3 linked regions of the Homo sapiens genome follow. The protein of the gene in region 1 purifies or fractionates together with the protein of each later gene. This does not show direct contact. Each region holds a gene or a part of one and is shown in the gene's direction. Other genes may lie near its edges.

Region 1 (11,025 bases):
TGGGCGTGGTGTCTCACACCTGTAATCTCAGCTACTCAAGAGGCTGTGGCATAAGAATTGCTTGAACCCTCAAGACAGAGGTTGCAGCAAGCAGAAATCATGCCTAGGTGACAGAGCAAAACTCAGTCCCCCAAAAAATCATATAAATAGTCAAATGTTGAAGGAATGGATGGTTAGAAAATAAAATTAAAAATTAAAAAAGATTCAAATGTAGATCTAAACCATATGTAGAAATAATACGAATGAAAAATCCATTTATAATTTTGTATAGACCTTCTAAACATGTTACCAAAGTCAGAATACAAAAATTGAATACATTAGATTTGGCCTAGTTTTGAAGGACCTGTTTTGAAGCACGTTGGGAGGCCGAGGTGGGTGGATCACCTGAGGTCAGGAGTTCAAGATCAGCCTGGCCAACATGGTGAAACACCGTCTCTACTAAAAAAATACAAAAATTAGCTGAGTGTGGTGGTGCACACCTGTAATCCCAGCTACTCAGGAGGCTGAGGCAGGACAATCGCTTGAACGTGGGAGGTGGAGGTTGCAGTGAGCCGAGATCACACCACCGCACTCCAGCCTGGGCAGCAGAGTAAGACTCGGTGTCAAAAAAAAAAAAAAAGAATGTCAGATTTGACAGATAAATAGTAGTTAATTAGGTGAAGGAGGGAGAGGTAATATTATAGACATATGCAAACACTGTTGAGGGATGAGGTCTAGCACACACAAGGAACTAAGAAAAGGCCAAAGTAGCAGGAGTATAGGAAGCAAATGGGAAAGAGGAAAAGGAAGAAGGTAAAGAGGAAAAACAGGGGCCAAAACATGCAAGCTTTTTTTAAGCCTTATTAAGAAATTTGGTCTTTATCCTAAGAGCAAAATAAGGCGAGGTGCGGTGCCTCATGCCTGTAATCCCAGCAGTTTGGGAGGCTGAGGTGGGTGGATCACCTGAGGTCAGGAGTTCAAGATCAGCCTGGCCAACATGGTGAAACACCATCTCTACTAAAAAAAATACAAAAATTAGCTGGGTGTGGTGGTGTGCACCTGTAATCCCAGCTACTCAGGAGGTTGAGGCAGGACAATCGCCTGAACATGGGAGGTGGAGGTTGCAGTGAGCCGAGATCACACCACCGCACTCCAGCCTGGGCGACAGGGCAAGACTCTGTCTCACAAAAAAAAAAAAAAAAAAAAGATCAAAATAAGGAGTGACATAACTGAAATGTACTGTAAAAAGATCATGCCAGGAGGATCATGGTGGCTCGCACCTGTAATCCCAGAACTTTGGGAGGCCGAGGAGTCCTTGTGACCAGGAGTTCAAAACCAGTCTGGGCAACACCTTGTCTTTACAAAAATTTTTAAAAATTAGCTAGGCACGGTGGCATGTGCCTGTTAGTCTCAGCTTCTTAGGAGGCAAAGGCAGAAGGATCTCTTTCTTGAGCCCAGGAGTTCAAGGTTGCAGTGAGATATGATTATGCAGAGTGAAAGGGAAGGAGGTGTCAAGGATGATTCTAGGTTTATGGCTTATGCAAATGGAAGGATGGATATGTGGTTCATGGAGGCAGGAAATGCAGGAAGAGGGCAAGGTTCTGGGAATGGGGTGAAGGTAATGAGTTAGGCTGAGTTGGAGGAGACTTTGAATTGTCCAGTAGGCAATTAGATATTTGCATCTGGACGGCAGAGGGTCAGGGCTAGAAATACAAATTTGAGAGTCACTGCCATGCCCAGGTTATGGAGGATGTGCTTGCAAAGCAAACAGAAAAGCCAAATATGTAGAAAGGAAATCAGAAGTGTGGCATTAAAAAAGCCAAGTAAGAGAATGTTTCAAAGAGTCGTGGACAACAAATACATATTGGGCTTCTATTATGTATAAGGTCCTGTAAAATTGATACTGCTAGTATATATGTCTGAGGCCTTAAAGAAGCTTTATCATAACCACCTCTAAAGCTATGCCTTTATTCAGAGGTTTTTCTCCTCAGTCTGAACAACATTGACTTCTTTCTCCTATTCCCAAACCCACTTGAACATGAAAGGTCACCTTTTTTTTTTTTTTTTTTTTTTTTTTTTTTGAGATGCAGTCTCGCTCAATCACCCACCCTAGAGCGCAGGGGAGGGATCTCAGCTCACAGCAACCTCCATCTTTGGGGTTCAGGAGATTCTCCTGCCTCAGTCTCCCGAGTAGCTGGGATTACAGATGCCCACCACCACACCTGTAGGGAGCTGAAGGCCCATGGGATGTGACCAACTCAGCATTCCACTGGAGGCTCTATGATCAAACACCAAACTGTTAATCATGAATGCAGGATGTGAGCAAACTCACGACTGCTCCTGCTGACAGAAGATTTGCTGGAGGCAATCACTCCCTGGCACTGAGGTTATCCACTGCGACATCTAGAGAATGCGGTCTTGCAAGCCTACTCTGGACTCAGCAGCTGACCCCTTCTCCCACCTCCCTTCTCACTATCTCTTTTACCTAATAAATACAGAAGGCTGTGTAAAGCTCAGGGCCCTTGTCCACTAGAGGCAAGGTACCCCCTGACCCCTTCTTCCAAATATACTCTTTTGTCTCGTCTTTTATTCCCGCATTTGCCCTCCTTTGTTCAGCCCATAGGTCCGTGCGGGTTACAGAGTGGTGCCCTGATCAGCAACAGAATCGGGTGCTCTACCCACACCTGCCTAAGTTTTGTATTTTTAATAGAGACAGGGTTTCACCATGTTGGCCAGGCTGGTCTTGAACTCATCTCAAGTGATCCACCCACCTAAGCCTCCCAAAATGCTGGGATTACAGGTGTGAGCCACTGCACCCGGCCGTGGTCACCATTTTTTAAAGTTCTATGTTCTTAGGCTAAAAAAAAAATAAACTTCTCCCCAGCTATAACAAAAATTTCATATTATTCCTCTCCTATGTCTCCAGAAACAGCCTAGTCAACCTGAAAATGTCTCGTTATTGGAATACTCTGACAGGTTAACTATAGACATTAACAGCAATAGGTCCTTCCTACCCTTAGAATTACATCAAGATAGCTACACAAGTCAGAAATGCAACATGTCAGAAATACTCAATAAAGATCCTGATAGATTATAAGCTCCATGAGGGCAGAGAATCTATCTTGTTTACCCTGTCATCTGGCACATAACTAGCATTTAATCAATATTTAATCTTGTTTTAGTGATCTAGTCTTCAGAGTGCTAATCCTGAATGTAGACCCCAGTCATAGGATTACTGTGGATCAAGTCAAAGAAAATAAAATATATAAAAGTACTCTACTTCGGCACTTTTACAATTATAGACTTTTTTTGTTTTGTTTTGTTTTTGAGACTGAGTTTTCCTCTTGTCGCCCAGGCTGGAGTACAGTGTCATAATATCGGCTCACTGCAATCTCTGCCTCCCATGTTCCAGCAATTCTCCTGCCTCAGCCTTCCAAATAGCTGGGACTATAGGTACCCTCCACCACCCCCAGTTAATTTTGTATTTTTAGTAGAGACGGGGTTTTACCACATCGCCCAGGCTGGTCTTGAACTCCTGACCTCAAGTGATCTGCCAGCCTCAGCCTCCTAAAGTGATGGGATTACAGGTGTGAGCCACAGTGTCTGGCCTAATTGTAAACATTTTTAAAAAACGTCTCAGCATTAGCATTCTGCTGAGCTAGGTATTCTATAAGGATTTATTCCAACTGAATATGCGCATTAGAATGCTGTAAAAACTGAGAAACAGACTCAGATTTATTATGTACTTTTTTGTGTGATAAGTACTGTATATGTGTTAATTTAATCTTGACCAAAACCCCAGGAGATATTATCTTCTACTTGCAGGTGAGGAGACTGAGTAACTTGCTGAAGGTCACATAGTTGGTAACTTCCAGACATGTGATACAAATCCAAATCTGTGTGACTCCGCAGCCCATGCTGGTTTGCCCATAGCAATGTCTCTCAAATTTTTTCATGAAGTAACCTCAAGTTGCAAGAAAAACCAAAACATATTCCCGGGGGGGGTTTGGGAGATTACTGAAGTATCCAGTTTAAGCCTGATGTGTCTCTGACCTCATACTTTTCTCTTAAATTTTATTTTTATATTTGCATTTTACCCCCACATTTTGTTTTTATTTCTATACATATATTTTTTTTTGAGATGGAGTCTCGCTCTGTCACAGAGGCTGGAGTGCAGTGGCATGATCTTGGCTCACTGCAAGCTCTGCCTCCCGGGTTCACACCATTCTCCTGCCTCAGCCTCCCAAGTAGCTGGGACTACAGGTGCCTGCCACCACACCCGGCTAATTTTTTGTATTTTTAGTAGAGATGGGGTTTCACCGTGTTAGCCAGGATAGTCTATCTCCTGATCTCGTGATCCGCCCACCTCGGCCTCCCAAAGTGCTGTGAAACAGGCGTGAGACATCACGCTCAGCTAATTTATTTATTTTTAGAGGGAGTCTCTCTCTGTTTCCAGGCTAGAGTGCAGTGGCCTGATCTCACTCACTGCAACCTCTGCCTCCTGGGTTCAAGCTATTCTCCTGCCTCAGCCTCCTAAGTAGCTGGGACTATAGGCACACATCAACATGCCCAGCTAATTTTTGTGTTTTTAGTAGAGACAGGGTTTCGTCATGTTGGCCAGGATGGTCTTGATCTCTTGACCTCATGATCCACCCGCCTTGGCCTCCCAAAGTGCTAGGATTACAGGAGTGAGCCACCGTGCCCGGCCTACCCCATGTTTTATTAAAGTTTATTTTCTTTTTCAAAAATTTTAATGATTTATCCACACTACACAGATGTAATGTCTGCTTAATATAAACCATTTCAAATGACTTAGGTAAATCATTTAACTCTTCCCTCCCTGAAAGATTTTTTTTGAGAAAAGTGATTACACAAGAAGGTGCACCTTCCATATTTATCCCATAGCTTTGTTTAGTTCCTAGTGCGTGGTTTCAAAAACCTGGATCCCAGTTTGAAAGCATGACTACAGAGCAAATTGCATTAAAGACATCTTAAGAATGATGATGAAAATAATTATTATAGGCAAGGGCCAGAAGATTTTTTTTTTTTTTTTTTCTGAGATGGAGTCTCGCTCTGTCGCCCAGGCTGGAATGTGGTGGCGTGATCTAGGCTCACTGCAAGCTCCGCCTCCTGGGTTCATGCAATTCTCCTGCCTCAGCCTCCCGAGTAGCTGGGACTACAGGCGCCCACCACCGCACCCAGCTAATTTTTTGTATTTTTAGTAGAGACGGGGTTTCATCATGTTAGCCAGGATGGTCTCGATCTCCTGACCTTGTGATCTGCAGAAGATATTAATAGCACTTAAATTATACAGCTATAGATAGAGTTGAGTGGGGGTTTTTTTGTTTTTTTTATTTTGCTTTGTTTTGTTTTTGAGATGGAGTCTCGCTCTGTCGCCCAGATTGGAGTGGAGTTACGCAATCTCAGCTCACTGCAACCTCAACCTCCCGGGCTCAATTGGTTCTCCCACCTCAGCCTCCCAAGTAGCTGGGACTAGAGGCATGTACCACCATGCTGGCTAATTTTTGTATTTTTTGTAGAGATGGGGTTTTGCCCTGTTGCCCAGGCTGGTCTCAAACTCCTGAGATCAAGCGATGTGCCCTCTTTGGCCTCCCAAAGTGCTTGGATTCCAGGCTTAAGCCACTGTGCCAGGCCAAAGTAGTTTTGAACTTTCCACTGTCAACGAAAGAAATTCTAAACACGACTGATTCCACTGAGTTTGACCAAACTAACTGAAGACTTATTGTTGAATGTGGTAATACCATGTTTTTTCTTCACCCAAGAATCTGGGTGCTTTATAAGCATAAGCATGAAATCTCCCTGAAGATAGTATTTATGCATCCACTGAGCGCTCAAATATAGACCATATTAGAAGTTAAGCAATGGGTTGAGTGGCCAACCACATTTTGGCCAGTCCTACAAGACTTTCTTTGACCTACCAAATGGGGTATAAATGCTTCTCGTATTCTCCCCGCCAGTAGGGACTCAAAATCTTAATAGCTCGGGGTAGTAAAAAGGATGCTAGGTTTGAATCTTGGCTTTAAGAAAACTGTGCTGAGGTGTTTTGTTTGTTTGAGACAGGGTTTCACTCTATCACCCAAGCTGGAGTGCAGTGGCGTGATCATAGCTCACTCCCAGGCTGAAGGGATCCTCCCACCACAGACTTCTGAGTAGCTGGGACGACCGGTGCATGCCACCATGCCCGGCTAATTTTTTGTACTTTTGGTACAGACAGTGTTTCGCCATGTTGTCGAGGCTGGTCTCAAACTCATGAGCTCAAAGAGATCCACCTGCCTCGACCTCCCAAAGTGCTGGGATTACAGGCACGAGCCACTGCGCCCGGCCAGCTTTTTTTCTTTTATCAGAATTGATATTAAACTATATGCTGAGCTTCCATGTCCTTATCTTCCTTTTGGCATGGCTATGGCCATTTGAAATGTGTGGGATTTGCTAAAGTGCTCAACATACGTTGTTTCCTTTTTTAGATCTAAGTATGTAGAGGGCTCTGATTTGCAATATTTAGAAAGTTCTTCTAAGCTGGGAAGAAAAGTCAAGACTAAGAATCATTGCCAACAGGGCCGGGCGCGGTGGCTCACGCCTGTACTCCCAGCATTTTGGGAGGCCGAGGCAGGCGGATCACGAGGTCAGGAGTTCGAGACCAGCCTGGCCAATATGGTGAAACCCCTTCTCTAATAATAATACAAAAATTAGCCGGGCATGGTGGCGTGCGCCTGTAATCCCAGGTACTCAAGAGGCTGAGGCAGGAGACTCACTTGAACCCGGGAGGCGAAGGTTGCAGTGAGCCGACATCGTGCCACTGCACTCCATCATGGGCAACACAGTGAGACTCTGTCTCAAAAAAAAAAAAAAAAAAATCGCCAATAGGTAGGGAATAAGTTACCCCCTGCTAAATAAGTTACACTCACCTAGGCAAGGAAGGAACTCATAAACCACCTTCTAAACTGCTTGCCTTCCTCCCCGAAGTTCTGTAATTTAGAGGCGGTCACTACCACTGCTTGAACACCCCTTCCCAAGTCTGTACCACAAAAGGAGCTCTTGTGTAGCCCAGCCCCTCCTTCTCAGGACCCCAGGAGCCCAGACACACTAATGGGGACATTAGTTGCTTACTTTTCCAGCTACTGCTTAAGCTAGGCAGGCCATGAAGAAATAACGGTCTCAGTAACCTCCATGCTCGGGATACGACTCCCGGGAAGACGTGGGTGGGTGCGGGGAATGCGGACTGATCCCTCCCAGCGGCCGTTGGGGGCTGGCCCACAATCCCTCGCGAGGGCGGGAAAAGCAATGTGGTCGTTGCGGGGGGGGGGGGTCAGAAAAGGGGGACGGTCAGCGGGAAGAGCCAAGAGACTGCAACTCTACAAAGAGCACGCAGATTAATTCTAATGATTGTTCCCTGAGCTTTTCACACCAAAATAATGGTAACTGGCTAGTGTGTGCCCGTTACGCTCACTACTCCCACTCGAGATCATTCCTATTAATGACTCTGAGGCTTCACCTAACAGGCCACGGTGGAGGCAAGGAAATGTGGCGTGGAGAACCCACTGGGCCTGGCTCTCCGTCCTATGGTCTCCGTCCATCGTTTTACAGTCAGGGTGTACATTTGATGAGGAATCTCTAAATGGGATTTTGGGGAATCAAAACGGAATGGTGCATAAGTGTGAAAATTTACAAGACTGCGCAAAGCTGCAAGGCCCGGAGCCCCGTGCGGCCAGGCCGCAGAGCCGGCCCCTTCCGCTTTACGTCTGACGTCACGCCGCACGCCCCAGCGAGGGCGTGCGGAGTTTGGCTGCTCCGGGGTTAGCAGGTGAGCCTGCGATGCGCGGGAAGACGTTCCGCTTTGAAATGCAGCGGGATTTGGTGAGTTTCCCGCTGTCTCCAGCGGTGCGGGTGAAGCTGGTGTCTGCGGGGTTCCAGACTGCTGAGGAACTCCTAGAGGTGAAACCCTCCGAGCTTAGCAAAGGTAACGACTCCTGATGGCAAGCTGAGGCACACCGGCCGCCGTCAGCGCCGCCTCAGTCTTCGTTCTCTCGCCTCGGCCTTCAGCCCAGTCTCCGTTAGATTCTGCTTCCTCCCACGTCCATGTTTACAGCGTGAAAGAGCTCCTCGACTCCACTTACAAGTTGTCTGAATGGTTAGGAGAACTGTGGTCGTGAAAACATTTACTAATTGCTTTTCCTCTGGCAATGCCTGCTGAATGCTTTGAGGATTGTCTCATTTAACCCTCAACCCGCTTACGTAGATTATTATATTCAGTATATGGATGAGAGAACTGATATCTTGGGGAGCTTAGGTAACTTTTCATGCTAACTGGGTTAGGAAATACTGGAGTCAGAATTGGTTGTCTAATTTTTGCTGTTCCAAGATCCAAGGGGTAAGGGTTAAATTTCAGAAATGCAGGATTTTGTGTAGGACTAGAGACACTAAGAATGAGAAAGAGAGTAGAATCCCCGGAATCTTGAGGAAGCATAGAAAGAATATTCTCTTACGTAATTAACTGAAACACCCAAAACCTCATATTCCAGAGCATTGCAGATGGGAACCACTGCATCCTGAGACATACAAATATGAGGCTGGCGGTGGTCACTTGTTGTGCACATCTCTCTATGACATGTCTGGACCTGTGCTATTCACTGAAGAAGATGGAACAGAATTTTAAGTTACTGCCCTTACTGATGGAAAATACAGAGGTTTCAATTCGCCTCTAAAGAATAAGTCTCGTGGACCCAGCCTTAACTGTTTAAGTCATACCGCGCGCAGACTGTGTCCCCCAAGATTTGATGGGCTCTTTTTTCTTCAACAAGTTGGCTTTTCAAAGAAGAAATGTGAGACCCTGAATAATAATGATCACTAACAACTATTGACTACTTTAGATGGTCTTGATATTCTACCAAGCTTTTTACATGTATCGTCTCATTCCCATTTTATAGACGAAAAAAATCTGAGCAAAAAAGAAAAAGTGAAGTAACTTGCCCAAAGTCATGCAGTAAGTGGTGCCAGGATTTACAAACCCAGGCAATCTAATTCCAGCATTCAGGCTCTTGATAGGATTTTCATTTCCTAAATGCTGTCATCACCATTGTCTTTTATTAGCCCCATATTTATGGCTCATATTCTTATCAGATCAAGCACTGATATATCAAACTGATAAGTGATGTCATCCTCACCATTATTTCTTCACCAGCTTGTTTTGTAATTGCCATTTTCTTTTCTCAGGCCACACTGTCAGATGGGTGAAATTGTGTAGTCGAGGAAGCATAAATGTATTCTTTAAAATGCTTGTGCCTTGAATAATTGTTCTCATTAGTTTGGAGTGATACATGAATTTTTTACATCAGTTATTTCCATGAAAAGTTTTTATTATAAATAATACATGCATATGTGCTTCTTAAAGTTGTACCTTGTTTTAGGCAGTTAAAACATCTATTTTCATTCTCATCTGAAAAATAATTTGTATACCTTATGAGAGCGAGATAATTATGGCTTCATAAGACCAAAAGGGATAGTAAAAATATGGTAATAGTGAGTACATTTTTATTTCTGCTTCCTGAGACACTTGTAGGTACTCAGAAATGCTTTAGTTGAATTGTTTCTGAGGTAATAGGTAATTCTTTATGTGATGACTAAGAAAACGAATACCTTTATTAAGCTGAATTTTTTTTTTTTTTTTTTTGAGACGGAGTCTCGCACTGTCATCCAGGCTGGAATGCAGTGGTGCGATCCAGGCTGGAGTGCAGTGGTGCAGGTTCAAGTGATTGTCCTGCCTCAGCCTCCCAAGTAGCTGGAATTATAACGCGTGCCACCATGCCCGGCTAATTTTTGTATTTTTAGTAGAGACGGAGTTTCACCATGTTGGCCAGGCTGGTCTTCAACTCCTGACCTCAGGTGATCTGGCTGCCTCAGCCTCCCAAAGTACTGGGATTTTAGGCATGAGCCACTGTGTCCGGCCAAACTGAAAAATTAAATGGTTGATAGAATGTTGCATTTTTATGTTTCTCCACTCCTAGCATCACTGTTGTCTACAAATTAATAAAGACAATCGATTATCATGTTACACTTTTAAATCTCTAAAATTAGGGTTCTTTTTTTCTTATTTTACTTTCAGAAGTTGGGATATCTAAAGCAGAAGCCTTAGAAACTCTGCAAATTATCAGAAGAGAATGTCTCACAAATAAACCAAGATATGCTGGTACATCTGAGTCACACAAGAAGTGTACAGCACTGGAACTTCTTGAGCAGGAGCATACCCAGGGCTTCATAATCACCTTCTGTTCAGCACTAGATGATATTCTTGGGGGTGGAGTGCCCTTAATGAAAACAACAGAAATTTGTGGTGCACCAGGTGTTGGAAAAACACAATTATGGTAAAATAAAGTGTTCTCCTTTTAAGGGTGGGTTTAATAACATATTATGAAAGTAGTATTTTGTACTATCGTCAGGAAACCAAATAAGATATATATGTGCTCTTAATTTTAAGTGTGTATGTGCATTAAACAAAAATTAGCTTACTATTTGTGTTACTTCATTATCCCTTCTTGATAAATGTATGCAATTATTCTGATGTGAAAAAGTGTTTCTTTTGCAAATTGTACTGCAGTCATAAGGTTAAACAGGAAGTTTCTGCGTTATTCATTCCTGAGACTATATTTGAAAGTCAGATGTTTGAAAGTAGATTTATGGCTAGGGGTAGTGGCTCATGCCTATAATCCCAGCACTTTGGGAGGCCGAGGCAGGAGGATTGCTTGAGCCCAGGAGTTTGAGGCCTGCCTGGGCAACATAGTGAGACCTCGTCTCTACTAAAAATGGAAAATTAGCTGAGTGTGGTGGCACATGCCTGTGGTCCTAGCTACTTGGGAGGCTGAGGCAGGAGGATAGCTTGAGCCGGGGAGGTCAAAACTGCAGTGAGCCTTAATCACATCACTGGGCAGCAGAGTGAGACCCTATCTCAAAAAAAAAAGAGGCCGGGGATGGTGGCTCACACCTGTAATCCCAGCACTTTGGGAGGCTGAGGCGGGTGGATCACCTGAGATC
Region 2 (10,105 bases), on another chromosome or scaffold:
TTTGTGGAGATGACATTTTTCTATTTGGCCTCAGGCCACGGTTTTGTCTTTTGACACCTGGTGATGAAATCTGTATGGGAAAAAAATTTAAAAAGAATTCTGCTTTGTACAAGCAGTGGTAATGAATGTCCTGGTAACTGCAGTTGGATGTTAATAAAATGCTAGTCAGACCCTAGTGCAAGCAGGTGGCCAAGGAGCCCATTCTGCCAGAATTGGGAAGTACTTCAGTACTAAGATAGGATGTGTTGGCTGATTTTAAAGGGACAAAATCTCTTTCTTTCATCCTTTTCCTTGGGTCAGTCAGATTTCTGTTTTTAAGACTTAAAGCCATCAGTATTCTATGCAAATAGCATCCGTTGCAAATTTGAAAACTAAAACCAGGAAAAGTAAATATTAAAGTATTGATAGTATTGACATGGTATTGGCTTTACTTTGTACATAGTGCATACACATATATACAGATGTGTTTAACTAGTAAAAACCTTATCTTTTACCCTGAATTGAATGTGATGGGCATTAACAAGGACTAGGATGGAAACGGCAAAATGTTTATTAAAGTCAAGAGATTGTGTGTGTGTGTGTTTTTAAAATCTTATCTCTTTTTTCTACAAAATATTATTTTTTTACAAGCATTTCAAAATATTGAAACAAAAGCAGTATAGTTCTAATTATGGTAATGCCTAATGTTACCATATTTTAGTTTAATATCACATAAGAGTACTCTCTTTTTTTTTGAGATGGAGTTTTGATTTTTTGTTTGTTTGTTTGTTTTTTTGAGACAGAGCCTCGCCCTGTCATCTAGGCTGGAGTGCAGTGGCCTGATCTTGGCTCACTGCAACCTCTGCCTCCAGGGTTCAAACGATTCTCCTGCCTCAGCCTCCCGAGCAGCTGGGATTACAGGCGCCTGCCACCATGCCCAGCTAATTTTTGTATTTTTAGTAGACGCGGGGTTTCACCATGTTGGCCAGGCTGGTCTTGAACTCCTGACCTCATGATCTGCCCGCCTCGTCCTCCAAAAGTGCTGGGATTACAGTCGTGAGTTACTGCGCCTGGCCGGAGTTTGGGTTTTGTTGCCCAGACTGGAGTACAATGGCGTGATCTCGGCTCACTGCAACCTCCATCTGCCGGGTTCAAGCGATTCTCCTGCCTCAGCCTCCTGAGTATCTGGGATTACAGGTACCCACCATGCCCAGCTAATTTTTGTATTTTTAGTAGAGATGGGGTTTCACCGTGTTGGCCAGGCTAGTCTCATCATACTCCTGGCCTCAGGTGATCCACCCGCCTTGGCCTCCCAAAGTGTTGGGATCACAGGTGTGAGCCACTGCACACAGCCAGAAGTACCCTTTTGTTTTTTAACTGAGTCTTGCTCTGTTGCCAGGCTGAAGTGTAGCGTTGTGATCTCGGCTCACTGCAAACTCTGCCTCCCTGATTCAAGCGATTCTCCTGCCTCAGCCTCCCAAGTAGCTGTGACTTCAGGCGTGCGTGCCACCATGCCCAGCTAAGTTTTGTATTTTTACTAGAGACGGGGTTTCACCATGTTGGAGGATGGTCTCGATTTCTTGACCTCGTGATCCACCCGCCTTGGCCTCCCAAAATGCTGGGATTACAGGCCTGGGCCGCTGTGCCCAGCCAAGAGTACTCTTTTTTTTTTTTTTTTTTTTTTTGAGATGGAGTCTTGCTCTGTTGCCCAGGCTGGAGTGCAGTGGCGCAATCTCGGCTCACTGCAAGCTCCACCTCCTGGGTTCATGCCATTCTTCTGTCTCAGCCTCCCGAGTAGCTGGGACTACAGGCGCCCGCCACCACGCCTGGCTAATTTTTCATATTTTTAGTAGAGACGGGGTTTCCCCATGTTAGCCAGGATGGTCTCGATCTCCTGACCTCATGATCCACCCGCCTTGGCCTCCCAAAGTGCTGGGATTACAGGCGTGAACCACCGCGCCCAGCCAAGGGTACTCTTAAGATTTATTTAAAATATTAAAATTAAACAGCAGTACATAAGTGTTAGCCTTATCAAAGTGGTCCTCATGGGAACTGACACATTCACTCCGTAATGCTGCCCTATTGCTCAAACCAATTTAACATTTATTTGGAGTTGATTTAGAAGCTTGTGGCAGAATCTTTGAAATTTCTTCAGTGTAGGAAAATCCTTGTACTTTTGAGAGTCAGTTTGATTTCTGTAAATAGCAAAAAATCTTTTAGAGCCTTATTTAAAGTAGGGGATCAAATTCGGTTTACACATTTTCATGCAAAAGTGTAGTGCAGTTAGGCCCTTTTTGGCCTGTGTGAACAGCCTTAAAGATATTTCTTTTCGGCCGGGCGCGGTGGCTCACGCCTGTAATCCCAGCACTTTGGGAGGCAGAGGCGGGCGGATCATGAGGTCAGGAGATCGAGACCATCCTGGCTAACACAGTGAAACCCCGCCTCTACTAAAAATACAAAAAATTAGCCGGGCGTCGTGGCGGGCGCCTGTAGTCCCAGCTACTCGGGAGGCTGAGGCAGGAGAATGGCGTGAACCCGGGAGGCGGAGCTTGCAGTGAGCCGAGATCCCGCCGACAGAGCGAGACTCCGTCTCCTCTGTCTCAAAAAAAAAAAAAAAAAAAGATATTTCTTTTCTTTCTTTCTTTTTTTTTTTTTTTTTTTGAGACAGAGTTTTGCTCTTGTTGCCCAGGCTGGAATGCAATGGCGTGATCTTGGCTCATTGCAACCTCTGCCTCCCGGGTTCGAGCAATTCTCTTGCTTCAGCCACCCTAGTAGCTGGGATTACAGGCGCCCGCCACCACACCCAGCTAAGTTTTTGTATTTTTAGTAGAGATGGGGTTTCACTACATTAGCTAGGCTGGTCTCGAACTCCTGACCTCAGGCAATTCACCCACCTCAGCCTCCCAAAGTGCTGGGATTACAGGCGTGAGCCACCGCGCCTGGCTCCTTAAAAATATTTCTGAAGCAGAATACCTCCTGAGTGGTATCTCCTTCTGTACAGTCATATGAATCAGAAACCCAGAAGTCTTGGACACTGCTGTCCCTCTGCCCTTGTGTACAATACAGTGTTAGATTTTCCTGAATATCTCTTGAATTCATTGGCTTCCTTCCACCATCACTGCCATCACCCTATTCGAAGCTACTATCCTATCCTGACAGGACTTTTGTTTCCCACCTGGTCCATCCATATTCCAGAATCCAGAAGCCAGAGTCCTGTTGAAAATCTGATTTCATCTTCCCCTCAGCCTGCCTGCCCCGCAAAGAAGCATTCATAAAACTCTTTAGTGGCTTCTGGTTGCCTTTTTTTTTTTTTTTTGTGGAGACAGGATCTCACTTTGTCACCCAGGCTGGAGTCCAGTGGTGTAATCACGGCTCATTACAGCCTCAACCTCCTGGGTTCAAGCCGTCCTCCTGCCTCAGCCTCCCAAAGCCTTAGGATTACAGGCCTTGTCATTGCTCTTGAGATCAAATTGCAACTTTTGAATGTAGGCTATATATCTAGGCCCTTGAGCAGCCTAGGCCCTAGCTAGTTCTCACACTTGTCTCTGCTCCATGCACACTGGCCTTATAGTCCTGCCTTCTTTCCTTGTTTCCTCCTGCTTACAGGGTCTTTGCAGGAGCTGCTTTCCTCCATCTGGAAACACCCCCCTTTGTTAACCTCCTCTTCATCCTTCAGCTCTCAGGTTTCACCTCCTTGGAAGGCCTTCCTTGATTTCAGTTAGATTAGATTCTAACCTAATAGGTTCTCAGAGCACCATTTACCTGTCATTCACATCACTTATCACAAGTTAACACTTATTTGTGTGATTACATGACTGCAAGCAAGCTCTATGAGGGTTGGGATTATTTTCGCTTTTGCTCCCCATCATATGCACATTGCCTAGCATAATGACTGACATAATGACTGGCACTTACGGAAATACTTGCAGAATGAATGAAGAGTAGTTGTACTCTTGATTTGTATACAGGCAGCATCATCTTCTTTCAGAGTGGCTTAAAAATAAGCACATTACATATTTTGATTTTTTTCCCCATCAAATGGCAATATATACTTTGATTTATATGCTGTGTATGCATTGATATAGTTTTTGAAAGTCATGATTACTTAGTCTCATTTTCTGTCTAGGCATGTGTTGAACGGATACAAATCCTCATTTGTAACTTTGGTGTTTCTTGTTTTTCAGCTCCTCAATAATTATAAAGCCTACAATTGGGCTACGAGGACAAATATGATGTTTTTGCTTTTAAGGAGCTTATATGAATAACAATCGTAACAGTATCTTTTCTAAACTCCTGCTTTCAGTCAGGCTCTGTGGTGGGCATTTCACATGCAATTAATCGTCCCTCCCAAGATTGGAATTACTACCCTCACTTTGCAAATAAGAAAACTCAGACTGAGAGAAGGAAATTGCCCAAGGTCACATAGTTAACAAGTGATGTAGCCATGATTTCCACCCAGGTCTAGGTTTTCTGCCTTCACTGCCAGTGTTTCCTCTTTTACACTACATTACTTCCCATGAAGCCATTAGCCAATTTACTTAGGTGCCTAAGTGGGTATAAAATAGCTAATTTTGTGGGTTTTGGTATTGATATATGTGTTTGGTTTTGTTAATGCTTCTTAAAATATAGTTTGAAAAGTACAGATGAAAAGATACAGAAAACCTTTACTCAGCTGTGTATTGCCAGAGGAAACATACTGTATACTCTGTGCAAGAAATTATGATGAAATTACTATAGGAAAAAAATTTGTTCCTTAAAACAGAGTTGTCAACTCTCCATTTCAAGGTGTGGTCACAACTACAATAAAATTTTATTTTCTTTATATCTTCTTGTTCTTTTGCACAAGAAGGCTTGTGAAAGCCTTTCTTTTTCTTTCTTTCTTTTTTTCTTTTTTTTTGAGACAGAGTCTCGCTCTGTCGCCCAGGCTGGAGCGCAGTCTCAGCCCACTGCAACCTCCGCCTTCTGGGTTCAAGCGATTCTCCTGTCTCAGCCTCTCGAGTAGCTGGGACTACAGGCATGCACCATCACACCCGACTAATTTTTGTATTTTCTTTTTAGTAGAGATGGGGTTTCACCATGTTGGCTAGTCTGGTCTCCAACTCCTGATCTCAAGTGATCAGCCTGCCTTGGCCTCCCCAAGTGCTCGGATTACAGGCATGAGCCACCATGCCTGGCCGTAAAAGCCTTTCTTAATGGGCTGGCAGTTTGGCAGTGTGAAGGACAATTTCTACATATAAGTATTAATCTTCATTGTCATTATGTTATTGTGTTTTGAGACGGAGTCTTGCTTTGTTGCCCAGGCTGTGGGCAGTGGCACGATCTCAGCTCACTGCAACCTTTGCCTCCTGGGTTCAAGCGATTCTCATGCCTTGGCCTCCCGAGTAGCTGGGATTACAGGCACCTGCCACCACGCCTGGCTTATTTTTGTATTTTTAGTAGAGATGGGATTTCACCATGTTGCCCATGCTGGTCTTGAACTCTTGACCTTAGGTAATCCACGTGCCTCAGCAGCCCAAAGTGCTGGGATTACAGGTGTGAGCCATCTCACCCTGCCAAGACTCTTAACTAGAACTCTCACTAGATTAAAATTCTGTATAATTATAGCTGTTCAGGGTATTTTGGTTTTGCATGGATATCCCAGTGATGATTGATAGGATAATAGAGTAGTTTTCGAAAGTACTTATGTTTCTGTTAATAGTTTTATTTTTATTTTTTATTTAGTTTTTTGAGACGGAGTCTTGCTCTGTCACCAGGCTGGAGCACAATGGCACAACCTCCACCTCCTGTGTTCAAGCGATTCTCCTACCTCAGCCTCCCAAGCAGCTGGGACTGCTGGCATGCACCACCATGCCTGGCCAATTTTTATATTTTAGTAGAGATGGGGTTTCACCATGTTGGCCATGATGGTCTCTATATCCTGACCTCGTGATCCACCTGCCTCTGCCTCCCAAAGTGCTGGGATTACAAGCGTGAGCCACCACCAATTTATTTTATTTCATTTTTTAAATAATAGAGATAAGGTGTCACTATGTTGCCCAGGCTGGTCTTGAACTCCAGGGCTCAAGCAGTCTACCCACCTTGGCCTCCCAAAATGCTGGGAGTACAGGCGTGAGCCACCACGCCCAGCCTGAAAATTATTATTATTTTTGTTTCTTTTTTTATTTTAATTTTATGTTTTTTCTTTTTTTGAAAATTCTTAAAGTTTATGTTATTTAGACCTTACAATGTTGTGAGGATTAATAAGGAGATGCATGTAGAGCACTTAGCCCAATGCTTATATAATAAGTAGTCAGAAAAGTTAGCCATTATTATGATATTCATCATTGTTTTTTGTTTTTTTCTTTTTGAGACAGTCTTGTTCTGTCACCTAGACTAGAGTGCAGTGGCATGATCTCGGCTCACTGCAACCGCCGCCTCCCGGGTTCAAGCAATTCTCCTGCCTCAGCCTCCCTAGTAGCTGGGATTACAGGTGCCCGCCACCATACCTGGCTAATTTTTGTATTTTTAGTAGAGACGGGGTTTCGCCATGTTGGCCAGGCTGGTCTCAAACTCCTGACCTCAGGTGATCAACCTGCCTTGGTCTCCCAGAGTGCTGGGATTACAGGCATGAGCTACCGTGCCCGTCCTCATCGTTTTTGAATAGCGAAAAATTTTAGAACCATGTTAGCTTAAGCCAATTACAAGGGGAAAAAATATTCATATCCACCCTGGGGACCATCACCTAGTACAGGTTCTTATGAATTCCAGAAAATTATTATCTTGCATTTTTATAGTGTAGTTTTTAAAAGCCTATTCTAATTGTATGGTGTGGTTTTTGCTTTTTTTTTTGGAGACAGGATCTTACTCTGTCACCCAGGCTGGAATGCAGTGGCATGATCATAACTCATTGCAGCCTCGACCTCCCAGCCTCCCAGGATCAAGTGATCCTTCCACCTCGCCTCCCGGGTTCCTGGGACTACAGGCATGCTACCACACATGACTAATTTGTTATATTTTTTGTAGAGGGGGGTTTTACCATGTTGCCCAGGCTGGTCACGAACTCCTAAGCTCAAGCAATCCTCCTGCCTCGGCCTCCCAAAGTGTTGGGATTACAGGCATGAGCCACTGTGCCCAGTCTGGTTTGGATTTTTGTAATGGAATCTTTTAAAGCTAAAAATTTAACTGCTTTAGCGTGGACTTCAGAGATCTTTGGCATTTTTCCCAAAGGCAAGGGTTTTGTCCCATTTCTTGCGGCCAAGAACTTCCCTTTTCCCACAGTCTTACATGTCCTGTGCTAAATGTCATCTGTCTCCCTGGAAGTTACCATACGTCAAGGACCAAATGATTTATGATGTTAAATTGAGGTCTTCTACAGAGACAAAGAAGGAAGGAAAGGTGAAGAACTCTTATTATTTTCATTATTGCTGATAGTTTATGATACTGTAAGTAACAATTAGGTAAAACCTCATTTGGATGTGAGAATTTTGCTGTATTAAAAATTTCTGGTTGGGTGTGGTGTGGCTCATGCCTGTAATCCCAGCACTTTGGGAGGCCGAGGCGGGTGGATCACAAGGTCAAGAGATCAAGACCATCCTGGCCAACATGATGAAATCCCGTCTCTAGTAAAGATACAAAAATTAGCTGGGAGTGGTGGCGCTCACCTGTAGTCCCAGCTACTCGGGAGGCTGAGGCAGGAGAATTGCTTGAACCGGGAGGCAGGGGTTGCTGTGAGCTGAGATCGCGCCACTGCCCTCCAGCCTGGTGACAAAGCGAGAATCCATCTCAAAAAAAAAATTCTGAGCACAAGGGTCTTGGACTTTAGTTTTGTGAATATTAAGTGGCCTGGAGGTTTTCTCTAAGGAACCCAACCTAGTACTTATGAATGAATTGAAAAGACCCTCCTTTAGAAAGGAGCTGAACTGTTTTTTTTTTTTTTTTTTTGAGATGGAGTTTCACTCTTGTCACTATCTCCGCTCACTGCAACCTCCGCCTCCTGGGTTCAAGCGATTTTCCAGCCTCAGCCTCCCAAGTAGCTGGGATTACAGGTGCCCGCCACCACGCCCAGCTAATTTTTGTATTTTTTGTAGAGATGGGGTTTCAGCTTATTGGCCAGGCTGCTCTTGAACTCCTGACCTCAGGTGATCAGCCCGCCTCGGCCTCTCAAAGTGCTGGGATTACAGGCGTGAGCCACCATGCCTGGCCAGGAGCTAAACTGTTTTAAAGAGGTAAAAGTTAAGACTCATTGTGAGTATATTTTAGTTTCATTTTCTGACTTTTATGCCTTTATTGTCTTGGAAAAGACATAGTAATTTTGGAGTACTTAAACTTTATTTTCTAAATATTAAGCCCCATTTTACGGCAGTGTGGCTGGTCCATTGCAGTGCCAAGATTAGAAGTCATAGAACCTAACCCTGATTATTTGTTCAGATACAACCTCTAGTGTAATATCAGCCATTTCACTGCTTCTGTCTACCATCCTGCCTTGGTATATCAGACAATTCTCGTACTTTCTTTTTCCTAATCAATTATTTTAACATTTTCCCCCTAAGCACACCTCCATGCGAGATCTTGGTTGCTCTTCCTGACCACTAAAATAACCACTGTTTTCTATTCCTATTCTTCTAGAATAAGGGAAGATGTTCCTAGAAAAGGTAGTTTAGCCTACACTTCTCAGTGCTGGAGGGCCTGGCATCAGCCCTTTTATATCTGATTTTGAAAAGGCCCCTTAGGAACCTAACCGAGTTAGCTTCTTAAGCGTTTGGTTCACTTTTTAAAATTTTTTTAGTAAGAGACAGGGTCTTGTTCTGTTGCCCAGGCTGAAGTGCAGTGGCTTGATCCTAGCTCGCTGCAGCCTGAAACTCCTGGTCCCAAGTGGTCCTCCTTCCTCAGCCTCTATAGTGGCTGGAACTACAAGCATGTACCACCATGCCTGGCACATTTTTTTTTTTTTCTAAAGAGATGGGGGTATTGCTTTCTTGCCTAGGCTGGTCCCGAACTCTTGTGTTCAAGCAGTCTTCCAGCCTCGGCCTCCCAAAGTGCTAGGATTACAGACATGAGCCACTGTGTCCATCCAGCATTAGGTTGTTTTTTTTTTGTTTTGTTTTTTTTTTTTTTTTTGAGACAAGGTCTCACTCTGTCACCCAGACTGGAGTGCAGTGGCATGATCATGGCTTGCTGAAGCCTTGACCTCCCTGGCCCAAGGAATCCTCCTACCTCAGCCTCCCAAGAAGCTGGGACTAAAAGCGTGCACCACCACACCACCATGCCCAGTTAGATTTTTTATTTTTTATTTGTTGTAGAGACAGGGTCTCGTTCTGTTGCCCAGGCTGGTCTTAAACTCCTAGGCTCAAGTGATCCTCCAGCCTCGGCCTCCCAAAGTGCTGGGATTACAGCCATGAGCCACTGCACCTGGCTGGCATTAGGTTGTTAAACATGGACATGGAGGGTGCGAACAGGAGGCAGAGAAGCTCCAGAACTCATGGGAAACCTTATTTATTAAGGATTGCTGATCTCTTAGGTCCAAACTATAAAATGGTAAGACCGAAACAGTAGATTAGAGATGATTTTTCTCTTTAATTTATGCTTCTGAGATAAGCATTTCAGTTTTTGTTTTCTTTTTTTTTTTTTTTGAGACGGAGTCTCGCTGTGTCGCCCAGGCTGGAGTGCAGTGGCACAATCTCGGCTCACTGCAAGCTCCACCTCCCGGGTTAATGCCATTCTCTTGCCTCAGTCTCCTGAGTAGCTGGGACTACAGGCGCCTGCCACCACGCCCGGCTAATTTTTTGTATTTTTAATAGAGACAGGGTTTCACCGTGTTAGTCAGGACGGTATTGATCTCCTGACCTTGTGATCCACCCACCTCGGCCTCCCAAAGTGCTGGGATTACAGGCGTGAGCCACCGCGCCTGGCAGCATTTCATTTTTCCTTTGGGAAAGGCCGTTTCTGTAGTATGTACCAGTTTCCTCTGAAATACCAAATCCATCCACAACATACCGGCACAGTACTTGTCACTTTTTTCAGTGTAGGTAGCACAGGTAAGTTTATTGAATTATTCTGAAGCCAGAATTTATTTCTACAGTAATTTCTGGGCAGGTTCTAAAAAAGTCATCTGTGACTTTAGGACTGAAGTGTTTGGGGATGTTCATCC
Region 3 (10,041 bases), about 17 Mb from region 1:
ACATGTCATTTATAAGACCTAAGTTTCTCTTCTCATATTATCTTCCAACATAATCGCTCAATACACTCACATTTTTACCCATTTGGTGAAGTCCAGGGAGCACCTGGATCCACAGAGCTGGTCATTCCTTTGTACTCACCCTGAGAGTGAGGTCTAAAAGTCAGCAATATGAGATTTTACTATCAGAGAAGAAGGGTACTAAGATTTTTTTGCTGTTATTAATTAGCTCAATTTTCAGGGCTTAACCAGTAAGAACTTACTTAATGCTGTGTTTCCCAGAATGTGGTCCACTTTCTCAGGTGATAGGTAAGAAAACTTTAGGGAATTCATGGAGAAGCGCTTTTCAACTCAGAAGTTTTGGATTCATTTTCATGTACAATTTTTTTTTTTTTTGAGACAAGTCTCACTCTGTTGCCCAGGCTGGAGTGCAGTGGCGCAATCTCGGCTCACTGCAACCTCCGCCTCCCGGGTTCGAGCAATTCTTCTGCCTCAGCCTCCCGAGTAGCTGGGATTACAGGCAGGCACCACTACGCCCAGCTAATTTTTTGTATTTTTAGTAGAGACAGGGTTTTGCCATGTTGTCCAGGCTGGTCTCGATCTCCTGACCTCAACCGATCTGCCCGCCTCAGCCTCCCAGAAATGCTGGGATTACAGGCGTGAACCACCACACCCGGCCTGTTTCTTTATAAGTTAATTACAATTTTTAAAAGCAGGCCAATTTAGAGAAAGATTTAGTAAAGGTGATATACAGATATGGCAAAAAAAATGAAATATAACTAGAAGACTGTACTTTGGGACACAGCATGTTGGTGGACAATTCCGTCAAAAGTGTCAATATCATGTGAATGCACAGCATCTATGTGTGTTTCCTCTAAGGTTTCCTTCTATGTGCCAAGACTTTGACACTCTAAAGGGGCTGTTCCAGGGATCATGTGTTACACAGAGCCAGTCCGTAACAGTGCCTAGTAAAAATGAGAATTGACCAAGTAAAGAATTTTAATACATGCATGATTCTCAGGAACATTACAAGATCAAATGGAATCCCTGTCCATCTGTTCAAAAGAAGATTAAATGAAAGATGACATAGTAACAAAGGCAGAAAACTTCTGAAATGTATTAAGATTCTCAATCTGTGTGTTTTTTTGGAGTGAGAACCTTTCTCTAAAAATCAGGCTGGGCAAGATGGCTCATGCCTGTAATCTCAGCACTTTGGGAGGCCAAGGCGGGCGGATCACCTGAGGTTGGGAGTTCGAGATCAGCCTGACCAACATGGAGAAACCTCGTCTCTACTAAAAATACAAAAATTAGCCGGGCATGGTGATGCATGCTGGTAATCCCAGCTACTCGAGAGGCTGAGGCATGAGAATTGCTTGAACCGAGGTTGCAGTGAGCTGAGATTATGCCACTCCAGCCTGGGCCATAGAGCAAGACTCTGTCTCAAAAAAAAAAATACACACACACACACACACACACACACACACACTAGAACCCAACAGAAGAATATAAATTTTCTTTTAAAAAGGCCAGGTGTGGTAGCTCATGCCTATAAGCCCAGCACTTTGGGGAGGCTGAGGAAGGAGGATTGCTTGAGCTCAGGAGTTCAAGACCAACCTAGGCAACATAGTGAGACCCCATCTCTACAAAAAATTTTTAAAATTAGCTAGGTGTAATGTTACATGCTTGTAGTTCCAGCTACTCAGTAGGGCTGAGGCAGGAGGATCACTTGAGCCTAGGAGGTCAAGGCTGCAGTGAACAAAGATCAAGCCATTGCACTCCAGCCTGGGTGATAGAGTGAGACCCTGTCTCAAAACAAACAAACAAACAAGCTCTGCCATTTGGCTGTATGACCCTGGGTAAGTTGCTGAACCTCCAGAATGTTCAAATCTCTTGTAAACTCTATAGCCAACAGTAAATATAATGTCCAGTTCCAACCATTAATCATCATATGTCCTGGCCAGTAAGGAAAAGCTGTCTTAATGTATTAAAACTAGACCCTCCTTAGCAAAACAACAAGTTTTTAAAAATTAATTTTCTAAGGTCTCTATACTGGAATCTTTGGTTCCAATCAGGAACCATTTGAAGTAGCAAATGACAACCATTTCTGAGCAAAGGACGGGAGCAACCCACCTCTTTCCGACACTCCTCACTGATGATCTTGCTATTATCCAGAATATCTGGAAAAAGAGAAAACTCCTTTTACTTGTCCCTTAGAACCCATCGTCTTGTCAAGCTCAACAAGGGAAGCTAGAATGTGACTTACTGTAAGAAGAAGGGCATCGCTTTCCATTATATGCAAACCTGCTCAAGGTCATGTCAAAATCAGAAATCACCTATAAGGCAAAAGAGAGATGATGCCTAAATAGGCACCAGAATTCTAGTGTGGCCCTGCCTCAGCCTGGGGGATGATTATGGAAATCAATACAGCTCAGTGGCCAGGATGTAGGCAAAGCCCTAGGGGAGTTACCGAGTGACACAGAGGGATAGAGGGGAAGTGATCCTAATTAGTACCCGTTAACCCTGAGGAAAACGCAGTCTCCTAGTGTGGGGGCAAGGGTGAATACTCAGGACCCCTCTGACTCCTTCAATATCAGGTCCCTCCTAAGAGATCTCTACCATTACGGCCCATCTGGACATCTTCAACTTACTGGGGAGCCGCTGGCTTGGGGAGGATAAGGCCCTAGGTACTGGTGTGGGCGCCTTCTGTCCAATTAGAGGAAGCAGCATGACCATATTGAGAAATCTGAAATTTGGGTTTTAGGACAGGCGAACCAACCCGCTCTCCTTCAAGCTCCCGGCCATTTCTTGGGGCAGAGAGCTAGGAGGGGTCCGCGGCAGAGCAAAGCGGGAAGGCCCAATGGGCAGGAAGCCTCTCCAGCCGCCCCCAGCCCGGCCGGCCCCCGCACGCCCCAGAGGTACCTGTAACCGGTCTCCGCCGCCCTTGCGGAGGGCGCCCACGATCTCCTGCACCCGCCCAGGCTGCCGCATCAGGACCGTGGCCTTCATCAGGGTGCTCACCTGTCCCGAGACCCGAGAGAACCACTGACCCCTGCGCCACGCTGGGCCCGAGGGGAGCCCGGGGCTCGCTCGGGCGCGCGTGTGAGGCGGGGCCGGGGTGCGCGAGGGGGCGGCTACTGGCCTGGGTGAAGCGGCGGTGCCTCGGTGACCAGCTGGGGGGCTCGAAGCGCCCCGGGGGTCGGAGTCCGGGCCCGCCCCACTCCGGACGCTTCCTCCCTCCTCACCTCCTCTGCCATCCCGTTCGAGGCCTGGTCGGCGGCTCGCGGGACAACGACAGCCCCGCGACCGCACTGCGCAGGCGTCGCCTCCCGCCTGGAGCCCGGGCGGGGGTTGGTGGGGCCGGGGGCGGGGCGGGGGTGGGGCCGAGAATCGAGCGGTCCCGGAGATGGCCGCGATCCGGGTGGGCTTGCCGGTTGCGCTAGGCAAACTGGAGGAGGGTTCTATTTATTATGAAGAGCAGGGTGAAGGTCCCAAGGTGTTGGGGTTACGTGGGTAGGTAGGGTTCTGCCACTCTTTGTGGAGGAAAAGCCTTGCCAAACGTGGTCATTTCCAGGCTGAAAGTTTGTGACAAAAACATGACTGGGGCTGGGCGCGGTGGCCCATACCTGTAATCCCAGGACTTTGGGAGGCCGAGGCAGGATGATCGCTTGAGCCGAAGAGTTCGAGACCAGCCTGGGCAATATGACGAAACCCTGTCTCTACAAAAAATACAAAAATTAGCCGGGCATGGTGACACGCACCTGTTGTAGTCCCAGCTACTCGGGAGGCTGAGGCACGAGGATCACTTGAGCCCGGGAGATCCAGGCTCCAGTAGGCCGAGATCATACCACTGCACTCCACCCTGGGTGACAGATGACACCCTGTCTCAGAAACAAAAACAGAAAAACCACACGGCTGGATGGGAGGAGAGATGAAGGAGCCATAAACTGAATTCTGTTAATCACCCAGAAAGGGCTCTGTTAACTAGGCCATTCCTCATTCCAGAAGAAACTGAGTGACTAACCCATCCAGCGGGCTGGGAGACCCGGGACAGCTTTCTGAAATGTAATCAGCGTTGGCTGGGCACGGTGCGGAGCACTTGTAATCCCAGCTATTCAGGAGGCTGAGGTGGGAGGATCACTTAAGCCCAGGAGGTCGAGGCTGTAGTGAGTTATGATCACACCACTGCACTCCAGCCTGGGTGAGAGAGCGAGACCCGTCCCTAGAAAAAGAAAGATTTTTTTTTTGAGATGGAGTCTCACTCTGTCGCCAGGCTGGAGTGCAGTGGAGCGATCTCGGCTCACTACAACCTCCATCTCCTGGGTTGAAGCGATTCTCCTGCCTCAGCCTCCCAAGTAGCTGGGACTACAGGCATGTGCCACCACGCCCAGCTAATTTTTGTATTTTTAGTAGAGACGAGGTTTCACCATGTTGGCCAGGATGGCCTTGATCTCTTGACCTTGTGATCCATCCACCTCGTGCTGGGATTACAGGTGTGAGCCACTGCGCCCGGCCTAAGAAAGAAATTTAATCAGTTTTACTTCTCCCTTCAGCCTCAATTGACTTGGATTTCCTTGAGTTCGGTGTCTAGGGAGCCAAGTGTTGGGCTGTGGAAGGTAGATGAATGCTCCAGGGATAGAGACCTGTATCAGGTGAGTAACAGGAGCTGGAATCAATAAACACTCAGATGGTGCTAGTGGTCATGGTTCTGTTTTGGGTTCAAGGACACAGAAGGAGGTGTGAGGTGGTTTTCAGCCTAAGTGGGGTGGTAAGGAGGGGAGAAGGAAGAGGACAAGTCCAGGAGGCAGTTCCAGAACCTGAGAGCACAATCCTGTGTGATCTCACTGCAGGGCCAGGATTCTGGAACTTGGGTTGCCTGATAGACCCTATACAAAAGATGTAGTAGGGAAAAGGAGCGACAGCTGGCTAAAGGGGCCCCCCACAACCCTCCCCGACACCCTAGGAAAGCAGCCTCTCTCCGCTGTCCCAGGGTGCCATGGAGATGGAGAGCGCGGCGGCCTCCACACGTTTCCACCAGCCTCACATGGAGAGGAAGATGAGTGCGATGGCCTGTGAGATCTTCAACGAGCTTAGACTAGAGGGCAAGCTCTGCGACGTGGTCATCAAGGTCAATGGCTTTGAGTTCAGTGCCCATAAGAACATCCTCTGTAGCTGCAGTTCCTACTTTAGGTATAACAGGGTTGCCAAATTCAGCCAAAGGGGTAATTGGGCTCATTTTGAGACACTTTGATCCATTTTCTGTTTCCCACCCCATCACCTTAACTTTAGGGACACTGTCAAAGCTCTGGGCTCCTTAAAAATTAAAAAAAAATTTTTTTTTTAGAGATAAGCTCTCATTCTTTCACCCAGGCTGGAGTGTAGTGATGCAATCATAGCTCACTGCAGCCTTCAACTGCTGGGCTCAAACAATCCACCTACTCCAGCCTCCCAAGTAGCTAGGTCTACAGGCACATGCTGCTACGTCCGGCTACTTTTGAAATGTTCTGTAGAGAGGGAGTCTCGCTATGTTGCCCAGGCTGGTCTTGAACTCCTGGCCCAAAGCGATCCTCCTGCCTCAGTCTCCCAAAGTGCTGGGATTACCACTGTGCCTGGCCAACTCTGGTCCAGGCAGGAGCTCCTGCCTGGCTCCTTTGCCTTCTGAAGAGGCATGACTAGGGTCAGGGCCTTTTTTCTCTCTTTTTTTTTTTTGTTTGTTTTGTTTTTTTTTTTCCTTTTGCTCTTGAGAGATCTGATTTTTGTCTTTTTTTTTTGAGATGAGTCTCATTCTGTTACCCAGGCTGGAGTGCAATGGCGCCATCTCGGCTCACTGCAAACTCCGCCTCCCCAGTTCAATCCATTCTCCCACCTCAGCCTCTCAAGTAGCTGGGATTACAGGCGCCTGACACCACGCCCGGCTAATTTTTGTATTTTTAGTAGAGACAGGGTTTTGCCATGTCGCTCAGGCTGGTCTCAAACTCCTGACCTCAGGTGATCTGCCCGTCTTGACCTCCCAAAGTGCTAGGATTACAGGCATTAGCCACCGCGCCTGGCAAGATACAATTTTTCTTTTTTTAAGATGGAGTCTCGCTTTGTCCCCCAGGCTGGAATGCAGTGGCGTGATCTCGGCTCACTGCAACCGCTGCCTCCCAGGCTCAAGCGATTCTTCTGTCTCAGCCTCCCGAGTAGCTGGAATTACAGGCTCCCGCCACCATGCCCAGCTAATTTTTGTGTTTTTAGTAGAGACGGGGTTTCACCATGTTGGTCAGTCTGGTCTCGAACACCTGACTTCGTGATCCACCCACCTTGGTCTCCCAAAGTGCTGGGATTACAGGCATGAGCCACTGCACCCAGCCTTTAAGGTCTGATTTTTCAACTGGATTTCAACCAACTATTGGTGGGCCAGGTGCTTTAATCTTTGATTCTCACCCAAACCAACCTTTGGGAAGGTTGGACATCCCTACTGGATTTCAGATGACAATGCCACTTCAGGGACCCCCCTGTACCCCTATCCCAATAGAGACCATTTCAAACAGGGTGATAAATTAACAAGGATTAAGGGGATGGGAAGGGAGATGAGGGGGAAATACCCAGGAAATATCAGAAGAAAAAGGGAGTTTGGGCTAAAACCATTGTAACCCAGGAGGTAGAAGGGCTATTTTGTTCATGAGCTGAAAATGTTTGAGTAATCAATTCCAATGAAGATATGATCAATGTGTCCTACCTGTTGCTAAAACTTCTCATTCAGGTAGACCACAGAGCAGAGTCCACAATTTATTTTTTATTTTTATTTTTTTGAGATGGAGTCTTGCTCTGTCACCCAGGCTGGAGTGCAGTGGCACAATCTCAGCTCACTGCAACCTCCACCTCTCAGGTTCAAGCGATTCTCCTGCCTCAGCCTCCCGAATATCTGGGATTACAGCTGTGTGCCACCACATCTGGCTAATTTTTCTTTTTTTTTTTGAAATGGAGTTTTGTTCTTGTCACCCAGGCTGGAATGCAATGGCATGATCTCTGCTCACTGCAACCTCTGCCTCCCAAGTTCAAGCAATTCTCCTGCCTCAGCCTCCCGAGTAGCTGGGGTTACAGGTTTCACTATGTTGGCCAGGCTGGTCTTGAACTCCTGACTTCAGGTGATCCGCCTGCCTCAGCCTCCCAGAGTGCTGGGATTACAGGCGTGAGCCAACGCGCTCAGCTGAGTCCAGAAATAGACCAAATAGTAATTGTTTTAGGTTTTTGCAGGCCACACAGTCTGTTGCAACTACTCTGTTTTTATACTGCAAAAGCAGCCTTAGACAATACTAAATGAATGGGTGTGGCTGTATTCCAATAAGATTATTTATGGACACTGAAATTTAAATGTATTATAATTTTCAGGTGTCACAGAATATTCTTTTGATTTTTTCCCCCAACCAGCGGGGCGCAGTGGCTCACGCCTGGAATCCCAATAATTTGGGAGGCTGAGGTGGGTGGATCATGAGATCAGGAATTCAAGACCAGCCTGGCCAAGATGGTGAAATCCCATTTCTACTAAAAATACAAAAAACCGGGCATAAATACAAAAAGCCGGGCATGGTGGTGGGCACCTATAATCCCAGCTACTCGGGAGGCTGAGGCAGAGAATTGCTTGAACCTGGGAGGCAGAGGTTGCACTGAGCCAAGATCAAGCCACTGCACTCCAGCCTGGGTGACAGAGCGAGACTCCATCTCAAAAAAAAAAAAAAGATTTTTTCCTCCAGCCATTTAAAATGTAAAAATCATTCTTAATTTGTGGGCAGCATGAAAACAAGAGGTGGGCCAAATTTGGACAGAGTCCATAGGTTTGCAGACCCCTGCTCTAGAGGAAGAATTTGATTTCTAAGACCACATTTCCTTAAACTTCTTAAAAAAAGGAAGCAAAAGCCGGGCATGGTGGCTCACCCGTGTAATCCCAGCACTTTGGGAGGCCGAGGCAGGCAGATCACCTGAGGTCAGGAGTGCGAGACAAGCCTGACCAATATGATGAAACCAGCCTGGCCAACATGGTGAAATCGCATCTCTACTAAAAAATACAAAAATCAGTTGAGCGTGGTGGCACACACCTATAATCCCAGCTACTCAAGAGGCTGAGGCAGGAAAATTGCTTGCACTCTGGAGTTGGAGGTTGCAGTGAGCCAAGATCATGCCATTGCACTCTACCCTGGGTGACAGAGCAAGACCCTGTTTCCAAAAAAAAAAAGAAAAAAAGAAAAGAAAACAATTAATAAAAAGAGAAGCATTCCTGTTCTCATGAAGTTTACCCCCTGGATGGGGAAACAGGCATTAAATGAGTAAAATGCATATCAAATCATCATAAATGCCTGGGAAAATAAGAAAAGGAAGATAAAAAGCAGTGAGTGGCCATTTTATTTTTATTTTTTCAGACAGAGTCTCGCTGTGTCCCCCAGGCTGGAGTGTAGTGTCATGATCTTGGCTCACTGCAACCTCCGCCTCCCAGGTTTAAGCGATTCTCCTGCCTCAGCCTCCCAAGTAGCTGGGACTACAGGCATGTGCCACCATGCCCAGCTAATTTTTGTATTTTTAGTAGAGACGGGGTTTCACCACGTTGGCCAGGCTGGTCTTGAACTCCTGACCTCATGATCCACCCGCTTCGGCCTCCCAAAGTGCTGAGATTATAGGCGTGAGCCACCACGCCTGGCCCAAGAGACCTGGGTCTTACTCTCAGTTCTAGATCTTAATTTCTCCATCCACAAGGTAAGAGTGACCAAAGTCAGAGTTCTTGGAAAGGTGTTCTTCTTGTCCACTGTATATAGCACATGCCTGCACCCCACTTTCTCAGACCATTTCCAATGTACTCACCTAACAGGAGAGAAATGTTTCCGTGGCTGCTAGTTTCTTTCTTTTTTCCAGAGCTTTGTTTACAAGTGGCTGGAACAACACTGAAAAGAAGGTATACAACATCCCTGGCATTTCTCCCGACATGATGAAGCTAATCATTGAGTATGCATACACCCGGACCGTGCCTATCACACCGGACAATGTGGAGAAACTGCTTGCTGCTGCAGACCAGTTTAACATCATGGGTATCGTCAGGGGTTGCTGCGAGTTCCTCAAGTCAGAGCTGTGCTTGGATAATTGTATCGGCATCTGTAAGTTCACGGACTACTACTACTGTCCTGAGCTGAGGCAGAAGGCCTACATGTTCATACTGCACAACTTTGAGGAGATGGTGAAAGTCTCGGCAGAATTTTTAGAGCTCTCGGTCACTGAACTTAAGGATATCATTGAGAAAGATGAGCTCAATGTCAAACAGGAAGATGCTGTATTTGAGGCCATTTTAAAGTGGATTTCTCATGACCCCCAAAATAGAAAGCAGCACATTTCAATTTTGCTTCCTAAGGTCAGTGTTCACTCTTGATTCATTTATCACAGAGAGATTGTCCTAAAAGCAAAATTCAGACATATGACAGATCCCAAGGCTGTATTTACATGTCCTTAGATAGAAGGCATCTACTATTCTCTGGAATTTTGCAACTGTCTTTTCCCTTGGCATTACTAGTTCTTTTTACCTAAGTTATATTCTTTGACCAAAATCCTTCCTGGTGGTGGGGGAAGAAGAGAGCCTTCAAAATAATTCTAGGTGGGGTGTGGTGGCTCACTTTGGGAGGCCGAGGTGGAGAATCACTTGAGCCCAGAGTTTGCCAGCCTGGGCAACATAGGTTATAAAATTTAAAAAGTATAAAATTTGGCCAGGTGCAGTGGCTCAAGCCTGTAATCCCAGCACTTTGGCCAAGATGGGCGGATTACCTGAGGTCAGGAGTTCGAGACCAGCCTGGCCAACATGGTGAAACCCCATCTCTGCTAAAATACAAAAATTAGCTGGGCATGGTGGTGGGTGCCTGTAATCCAAGCTACTCAAGAGGCTGAGGCAGGAGAATCGCTTGAACCTAGGAGGCGGAGGTTGCAGTGAGCTGAGATCATGCCACTGCACTCAAGCCTGGGTGACAGAACAAGACTCCATCTCAAAAAAAAAAAGAAAAAAAAATTATAAAATTTAAAAATTAACCAGGC

The links.
Region 2: the proteins of RAD51C (region 1) and PTPN9 purify together in Homo sapiens (affinity purification with mass spectrometry; 2 studies listed by BioGRID and IntAct, with this or other methods). This does not show direct contact.
Region 3: the proteins of RAD51C (region 1) and KLHL10 purify together in Homo sapiens (affinity purification with mass spectrometry; 2 studies listed by BioGRID and IntAct, with this or other methods). This does not show direct contact.

What each region holds. Positions count from the first base shown.
Region 1 is NC_000017.11:58,684,832-58,695,856, forward strand, and holds the start of RAD51C (DNA repair protein RAD51 homolog 3), read left to right. Parts: upstream 1-7,770; 5' UTR 7,771-7,812; coding exon 7,813-7,957; intron 7,958-7,965; exon of another isoform or gene 7,966-8,128; intron 8,129-10,099; coding exon 10,100-10,358; coding exon of another isoform or gene 10,359-10,362; exon of another isoform or gene 10,363-10,549; intron 10,550-11,025. UniProt on the Homo sapiens protein: Essential for the homologous recombination (HR) pathway of DNA repair. Involved in the homologous recombination repair (HRR) pathway of double-stranded DNA breaks arising during DNA replication or induced by DNA-damaging agents.
Region 2 is NC_000015.10:75,567,478-75,577,582, reverse strand, and holds part of PTPN9 (tyrosine-protein phosphatase non-receptor type 9), read left to right. Parts: intron 1-10,105. UniProt on the Homo sapiens protein: Protein-tyrosine phosphatase that could participate in the transfer of hydrophobic ligands or in functions of the Golgi apparatus.
Region 3 is NC_000017.11:41,832,943-41,842,983, forward strand, and holds the start of KLHL10 (kelch-like protein 10), read left to right. Parts: upstream 1-4,882; 5' UTR 4,883-4,990; coding exon 4,991-5,184; intron 5,185-8,880; coding exon 8,881-9,370; intron 9,371-10,041. Other genes in the region: NT5C3B (7-methylguanosine phosphate-specific 5'-nucleotidase), read right to left, coding at 2,128-2,174, 2,261-2,330, 2,917-3,015, 3,240-3,251. UniProt on the Homo sapiens protein: May be a substrate-specific adapter of a CUL3-based E3 ubiquitin-protein ligase complex which mediates the ubiquitination and subsequent proteasomal degradation of target proteins during spermatogenesis.